Linked DNA regions of Homo sapiens: region 1 is linked to region 2. The links come from fine-mapping of genetic effects on gene expression. Tissue or cell type: anterior cingulate cortex. Region 2 holds a variant in brackets; the other region holds the start of a gene. All regions are shown on one strand. Distances are from middle to middle.

The links. PIP is the estimated chance that this variant, and not a neighbour inherited with it, causes the effect. A credible set is the group of variants that fine-mapping cannot tell apart.
Region 1: KLRF1 starts here. The variant in region 2 is the best candidate, but not a certain one, in a credible set for the expression of KLRF1 in anterior cingulate cortex (GTEx, PIP 0.80).

The regions. Positions count from the first base shown.
Region 1 is chr12:9,825,159-9,829,702 of GRCh38, reverse strand. KLRF1 (killer cell lectin like receptor F1) reads right to left here and starts at 2,222. Exons shown (of 6, transcript NM_016523.3): 1 at 2,074-2,222. The coding sequence starts at 2,158.
Region 2 is chr12:9,869,011-9,873,254 of GRCh38, reverse strand. It overlaps CLEC2B (C-type lectin domain family 2 member B), which reads left to right and starts at 3,901. Exons shown (of 5, transcript NM_005127.3): 1 at 3,901-4,050. The variant T/G (reference allele first, on the strand shown) is at 2,263.

The DNA.
Region 1 (4,544 bases), 44 kb after region 2:
TTTGTAACCTTGAGCTCCTGGGCTCAGAGATCCTCCCTCCTGAGCACCCTGTGTAGCTAGGACTACAGGCATGTGCCACCATGACTGATTAATTTTTTTATCTCTATTGTTTGTAGAGATGGGGGTCTTGATTTGTTGCCCAGGCAGGTCTTGAACTCCTGGCCTCAAGCGATCATCCTGCCTCGGCCTTCCAAAGTGCTGGGATTAATGGCATGAGCCACCACACTTGGCCCCTCATTATATAAGTTTGACTGAAAATATGTAAATGTTTTATGCTACTATAAAGTAAGTTAAACAAAAATGAAAAAAAATCCATAAAAAATGAAGAAAAGGAATCTAACTAGGTATTGTTAGTGTCTTCACTATAGAGAGAGGAATTACTTAAAGTGATTTTAAAACATTTAACTGTGCATGCTCAATGGAATATATCTTAAGGATTTTTTAAAACCGCAAAACATTTTAATCTGTTTTAAGTAACTATTATTATAATATTATTTCTATAGTGATTCTGAAACTACTACATATGTATAGTGGGATAGAGCAATTATGTAATTTCTTACTATCACTGGCAACAAAGGTTTTTCAATATATGAGAAAAGATTTACAAATATGTCATCACAAAATTAAGTTAAATGAATGAACATCATAACCCCAAGGCTCACATTGTCAATCTAATTCACATAAAATACGTCTTACCTCAAGCTTTAATAAATATTAGCTAAAGGTACAAGACATAAATATTAGTATGTGTCACTTAAATATCTGGGAGCCGAAAATCTGCACATTTTTGCTTCAGAGAGACATTTATGAACAGAGTGTGGAAAAAAGTCTGCAGAGAAGTCACTACATGTTGTAGTCTTTCAGGTTTAATATCTCTAATTTCCAAAAATGAAATAAAAATTGAGTGTAGGAAGTAAAGACTTGAAAATATGGGAATCTAAAAATTCACATGGAAGAGGCAATAAATTTCTTATACATAGCACGTATGTAACTCTAAGATGAATCACTGATGGATGATACTTGTGGAAGGACTCAAGAGATAAGTAAAATTTTCATGGGTGAAGTTATTAAAAGAGAAATATTTAGAAAGCAACAGAACAGAACAGACAGTCTCTATAACTGTGATTATTTGTGTCTTTAATTTCTGCTTATCTCTTTTGCCAAATCACATTAAGGTGGCATGATGGAATTGCATTGTGTATGGAGGGTATGCTTGAAGTAGCAAATTAAAATGTTGATTGCTGGTGTATAAACTTTATTTTGAGTCAACTTGGTGAAAAGCATAAAGTTTTTGAGAAGTTGAATTAAAAATTAGTATTAAAGGCTGGGCGCGGTGGCTCATGCCTATAATCCCAACACTTTGGAAGACTCAGGTGGGTGGATCACCTGAGGTCAGGAGTTCAAGACCAGCCTGGCCAACATGGTAAAACCCCATCTCTACTAAAAACGCAAAAAATTAGCCAGGCATGGTGGCGGGCACCTATAATCTCAGCTACTCAGGAGGCTGAGGCAGGAGAATTGCTTGAACCTGGGAGGCAGAGGTTGCAGTGAGCCGAGATCATGCCATTGCACTCCAGCCTGGGCAACAACAGTGAAACTCCGTCTCAAAAAAAAAAAATAGCATTAAAACACCATATTCTATGAATGATAAGGAGGTGAATGGCAGCAAATATTCACTAATTTGAAATTATTAATTTTAATTGAGTATGCATATTTCCTCAGAGAATGTCCTTAAGAAATTATATCAGACAAAATATTACAAGTAAGTGTTAGTTCCACATTGATAAATGGGAGAGAGAGAGATTATCTCATAGTAAATTTGTAAGATTAAATGAAGGAACATAGATAAAACATTCTGTATAGTGCCGGAAACTGGTGTTTCTTAAATGGTAAGAGAGGTTGTTATTTTTAAATCATTATTAATATTGAAAGAGAGGACAGGTGAGAGAGATACAGAGACGGAGAAAGAAAAGCACCCAAATACTGAAACAGTCCAATAACACAATGGAACAGGATACGGGAAACTACCATGTTAATTCACACCAATTGAAAAAATGAAATTAAATTCCATACCTTTAAATGTAAGTTGAGATGTTTGGGCAGAACTCCTTTTCTTTGACTGTACATTCAATGTCATGTATCTTTCTTCATCTTGCATCTTCAATGTGAGTGAATGTGTGTGTATACAGGTATGTTTTGTTTTATTAAGTATAACATGAAATGAGGAAAGAATAATAAATCTGCTGCTAATCAGAGATGCTCCTCAAATTGTCCTTTCACAGTACATATGAGGGTTCACAGTTTCACTTATTTGTGAAAACCTCAGAGGAAATGTTTTCTTTTTAAAAGTTGCTTTCCCATGACATAGATAACACATAATTTCTCAACTGTCCACCACATATTGAATTGAATATTCTTTTGAGTGCTTTACAAATTTCTCTTAATTTACCCTTAAAGTCAAGGGAATGGAAATTATGCCCCTTTTTGAGGTGAGGTTAATAATATATAGCTGCCTTTTGTTATAGCCTAAATATTTATATCATTTGAATTAGCCTCCCTAACATATTGATATTTAATTTAATAATTTGCAATTGCCAAGCAATTAAATTCTTTATCCTAAAACAATATTGTTTATAAATCATGCTAATAATTTAACAGTATAATTTGATTTTTTTTAACTTTTAGGTTCAGGGCTACATGTGTAGGTTTGTTATATAGGTAAAATCATGTCACAGGGGTTTGTTGTACATATTATTTCATCACCCAGGTATTCAGACTAGTACTACATAGTTATGTTTTTCTGATCCTGCCCCTCCTCTCACCCTCCACCTTCAAGTAGGCTCCGGTGTCTGTCATTCTCCTCTATGTGTACATGTGTTCTCATCATTTAGATCCCAATTATTAGTGAGAACATGTGGTATTTGGTTTTCTGTTCCTCCATTAGTTTGTTAAGGGTAACGGCCTCTAGCTTCATCTATGTTCCTGCAATGGACATCATCTCATTCTTTTTTATAGCTGCATAGTATTCCTTTGTATATGTGTATCACATTTTCTTTATCCAGTCTACCATTGATGGGCATTTAGGTTGATTGCATGTCTTTGCTATTGTCAACAGTGCTGCCATGAACAGATGCATGCATGTGTCTTTATGATAGATTTATATTCCTTTGGGTATATACCAGTAATGGGATTGCTGGGTCAAATTTCTGGTTTTAGGTCTTTAAGGAATCACCATGCTATCTTTCATAATGGTTGAACTAATTTACACTCCCATCAAAGGTGTATAAGTGAACCCTTTTCTCCACTACCTCATCAGCATCTGTTATTTTTTGACTTTTTAATAATAGCCATTCGACTGGTATGAGATGGTATCTTACTGTGGTTTTAATTTGCATTTCCCTAATGATTAGTGCCTACTGGAGGATAGAGGGTGGGAAGAGGGAAAGGATCAGGAAAAATAACTAATGGGTACTAGGGTTAATACCTGGGTGAAGAAATAATCTTTACAGCAAACCCCCATTACACAAGTTTACCTATGTAACAAATTTGCACATGTACTCCCAAATTTAAAATAAAATTTTAAAAACACAATATACCCTTTTAAATAAGATAAACTATTAATTCAAGGAGAAAATATTTGACAAATTATCAGAAATATATTTGTTGCTTAATGACAAAAGTAAAAGGATAATACATTTTTGTGTTATTTTTGTTTATTTTTACTTGCTAAATTTTGTTCTTTAATTTATAATTACAATTTCTTTGGCCATTATTTGACACTCCAAATGGATAAGAAGTAAATTAAGATTGATAAATAAAACACGAAAAGTATCTGTTCATGTCCTTAGTCCACTTTTTAATGGGGTTGTTTATTTTTTGCTTGTTGATTGGTTTAAGTTTCTTACAGATGCTGGATATTAGACCTTTGTCAAATGCATAGTCTGCAAAAATTTTCTCCCATTCTGTAGATTATCTGTTCACTCTGTTGATAGTTTCTCTTGCTGTGCAGAAGCTCTTACAGTTAATTATTTTGTTTGTTTGTTTTGTTTTGTTTCACTTTTGTTGCAATTGCTTTTGGCATCTTTGTCATGAAATATTTGCCCATTCCTGTGTCCAGGATGGTAATTCCTAGGTTATCTTCCAGGGTTTTTTATATTTTGGGGTTTTAGACATAAGTATTTTATCCATCTTGAGTTGAGCTTTGTATATGGTATAAGGAAGGGGTCCACTTTCAATCTTCAGCATGTGGCTAGCCAGTTATCTCAGCACCATTTATTAAAAAGGGAATCCTTTTCCCATGGCTTGTTTTTGTCAGCTTTGCTGAAGATCAGATGGGTGTAGTTGTGCAGCACTATTTCTGGGCTTTCTGTCCAGTGGTCTATGTGTCTGCATTAGACCATTGTGTTCCAATGGTCTATGTGTCTGCTTTTTTTTTTTTTTTTACCAGTACCTTGTTATTTTGGATATTGTAGTACTGTAGTATAATTTGAAGTTGGGCAATGTGATGCCTCCAGTGTTGTTCTTTTTGCTTAGGATTGCCTTGG
Region 2 (4,244 bases):
AACAGTAAGGTGCATAAATGTGCTTTGGTCAAGAAGTAGGCTGAGGCAGACATCCAGGCCATAGTGACTTAATGAGTTTGGAGTGCAGGCATATAACTCCACTTGTTATATAACCTGTTTGTGTAAGCTCATACTTGGCTCAAATCCACTATTGTTTGGAAAAGGTATAACTGCCCTGCTGATGCTGTACAGGCGCTCTTGGGCTTGCCTTGGCTCAGCATGGCGTGGCATGGCATGACATGGCTCGCACTGGTGCCCAGAAAGAGAGTAGCACTATTGACCCTTGTAAGGGAGAGCCAGTCGCCTTGAAGGCAGGCAGAGGGGAACCAGGAACGAGCTTGTGCCCAGAGGGAAAGAGTTAAGCTGCTAATCCTGACAGAGCTGGCCTTGCAGGCCAGGGCGTGCTGCTGCAGGCGTGGCGGCGGCAGGAGTCCCAGAGCCAGAGCAGACAGCGGAGATAAAGGCAGACAGTGTGAGAGAGTCGCTGTTGGTAAATAAAACTACATTTCACCTGCTTAGGGCCCCCAAGTGTTCTTTCAGCTATCGCCCATCCACCCACTCCCCTCAGACCTCAGCATGGGCTGGAACCTAACCTGGGTCATGACATTTGGAGTCATTGTGGCCCTAATGCCAAGCTAATAAAATAAATACTTAGAACTCATCAATTTGTGATGATTTTTAGAAGATTTTGCTATTATCCATGCATGAAATTATTAACATCTGTTACATCCGTATAGTGAAAATAATACGTAATGCTGTACTACTGCATATTTATTTCCAACTCTGTGTGTTCAGTGATGTCACCTGGGTACCTTGAAATCAGCAATGGTGGGAATAATTACATCACGGAAATCAGCTGGTGTTACAAACCAGAGCTTGTTATGTGTGTGTTTTTCTCTGTTCCACCAGTTGTTAAAGGACAGCACAGAAGTGGAAGCACCCTTTTTGGCTCTCTATATTACTTCTGTGAACATTGAGCTCTATCTGACATTGCTATGGCTCTATATGTCAGTAATCCTGGCTGCTATTGCAATTTGACCCTCATTACTATAATTGGCCCCAGCTTGTTTCAGAGTGGCACTCTGACACTTGGCGTTTCCTACTTCAAACCCTGTCCCAATACTCTCTCTGAATTCAGTTCTGTGGGAACATCTCCCACTGTAATCTTTGGCATGTAGAGAAGAACTATGCTAAGCTTCTCAGTGATGTTTATGTAGGACTTAAGTTCTTCCACCAGCGCCTTCCTTACTGCTTTGGTAAATAAGGTGCCCATTATATCATCCCATAGAACATAGTCAGTTGGTGGGTTTCCTGTCCTTATCTAGTTTATCCACTGTAGCATGCCCACTTCTCTAAGCATTTTTATCTTTTCTTCAGCTACCTGCCATGGGAATTCTGGAATGTTACTCTACTCAGCGTGAGCCATTGCTTTCTCCAATCTTCTTGGAGTTATTTCAGCAGTATGTCAGCACTGTTCACAGTATTTTTCCAAGTTATTAAATTCTGTATTGCAACTGAATGCCCTAATGTTGATAAAATCTCCCTTATCCAGCTTTATGTTTCTCTCATGATCTAGCACCCTCAGAATCCAATCCCATTGTGTACACTCCAAGCTGTTGTTATTATATATTGGTTAGGTCCAAATTCATTCTGAGTATAGCCCTTTCTCTCCCTTATAAGCTTAGCACATAACCTTAGTTATTGGCCTTATGACCAATAACTAAGAAAGGCAAGTAAGGGAGGGATTCCTGTAAGGAGGGTGTGAAGGGCACAATATTTTCTTTAAGGAAAAAGGCATGACCTCGACAAGGGAGAACATGTAACTTTGTTAGGATTAGAGAGTCCAACGTTTAGAAGCTTCTAGATTTTTAAAATTTTTGAGAAAAAAAATTGTGAAAAGTCACTATACAAATGATGGAAAGTATTTTTAATACATTTATCTAAAAATGGAATTTTTCTATATTATGTTGCAACCCATTTTACTTATTTATATACACATTTTTATGTGTATGTTTCTCTACATATATATTTACATATATATAAAATCTTAAAAATCACCATAAGGAAACAAATAAATCCATAAAAATGGGAAAAATATTTAAATAGGTCATTGAAAAAAGATATATGAGTTACCAATACGCACGTGAGTAAATGCTCAATATAACATCAGAGATGTACAAATTAAAATCACATTTAGATTCTACTACACGCCTACTAGAATGGTTAAATTGAAAAAGATTGGGCATATCTAATATTGCTATT[T/G]ATGTGGAGCAAATAGAACCATCCAATATTCATGTTGGGAATGGCACAACTTTTTGGAAAAAAATACATTTATAAAATAAAACATACATTTTCTATGTAACCTAGCAGTTTCACATCCAGGTATTTCTTCAAAAGATTAAAAAACGTGTCAATAGAAAAACTTTTGCATAAATGTTTATTTTGACCTTATGATATCCAAGAAGTGGAAAAAGCTCAATGTCATAATGGATACATTTTATTATAAAATAGATAAAAATATTTTATGTCTGTACAATGAAATACTACTCAGTAATAAAAAGAAATTAACTGCTGATCTGTGCAAAAACATGGATAAAACTCAAAAACATTATGCTCAGTGAAAGACATCAGACTTACAAGAATTGCCAACTGTATCATTCTGCTTAACAGGAATTTCTAAAACCAGCAAAGCTCATGTTTATTGACAGTAAGTTGGCTGCTGCCTGGCTTCAGGGGTGAGGATGAACTGCAAAGCAACAGCGGGGAACATTTCCCTGTGTTGAAAATGTTTTATATCTTAACTGTTGTATCTTGACTGTTTTCCTTTTTGGAACAAAACTAAATTTCACTCAACCATACTTGAGTAATCTCTATATTTTTCTATACATGCTTTTCTAATAGTTCTTTGGATACAATCTTTTGTTAACAACAAAGGTAGAATATATTCATTTCCTCATGAATTTTCTGTCTTTTTTTTCTGTCCAAAAATGAAAAGAGCAATTTTGTTATCTGTCCTTTCCTTCTGCCCAGAAATGATTAAACCTGTATTTCTTATTCTCTTCATATTTTCTTTGTTTTAATTCCTTTGTACTACAGTTTCTTCTCTATTCTCATTTGCTTTTCCTCTTCAAGTTTCTCTCTCAGAACAAATGCAGTGTTAATCCCGAAGCCGCTTGCGGGACACTGGCTTCTTCTCCTCAGTTTCCTCCCTAATATATTTGTTGAGGGGTAATACAAAATCACTGGGAAACTGATTAGAGCAGATTTGAAGACAAAATTGTGGCCTGGTAACTTAGCAAAAGCATAATGGTGTCATCTTGTATGCTGATGATAACGTTCTGGGCACTTTGTTACTTTCGTTTTCTTTTTTCCCTCTGTGTGTCTTTGTGTGTGTTTGTGTGTGTGCTCACACCCACACGTGTGACTTTGCACGCATTTGTCTTTGAGAGAGAGATAATAGTTTTTGTTTTTCTTTCAGTAGCCAAAGTTTAAACCATTGCTTTTTCTTTGATTCTATCGCTTTTAAGGTGATCTTTCTTAACACAGGATAAGAAAGCAGTAATGTCCTAAAGAATGCTGTTGAATTAATTAGTATCAGCCTCTCCTACAGTTCTGGAAGGATACGTGGTTAAGTACCACTCCTGGATGAATCAGAAAAACAGCCACTTGAGCAATTTCGTGTTCTGTGGTTCAGATGAGAATCCCAGTTGAGAAAGTAAGAAAATATGTGTTTATTCTTCAGCTTTAAATTGTTATATCACAAACTTCCTTCCTCCTTGGCAAGCTTTCTTTTTTGACGAGAAGAAAATTGTAATAAACAACAGTATGACTAATAGATAGTCACATGGTTACTTCCAGTTTGCAAAATGCTATTTATACTTTGAGTTACTCTTCAAAAGTGGTATACCTCTAGTTTGGAGCTGTGCTGTAAAAACAAGAGTAACATTTTTATATTAAAGTTAAATAAAGTTACAACTTTGAAGAGAGTTTCTGCAAGACATGACACAAAGCTGCTAGCAGAAAATCAAAACGCTGATTAAAAGAAGCACGGTAAGAACATTTTTGTTTGTTTAGAATGACCGTTATTTATTGAAATTGTGATGCAGAATGTTAAAGCCTTCGAGAAAAGAATTAAATTTTGTGGTTTCTTTTGTGAAACTAGAAAATTCCTTCTTATAACAAGATTGAGATTTGCATATGACTGTTTTGTCCTAATAAATTCAGACTTACTTTACATTATTTGA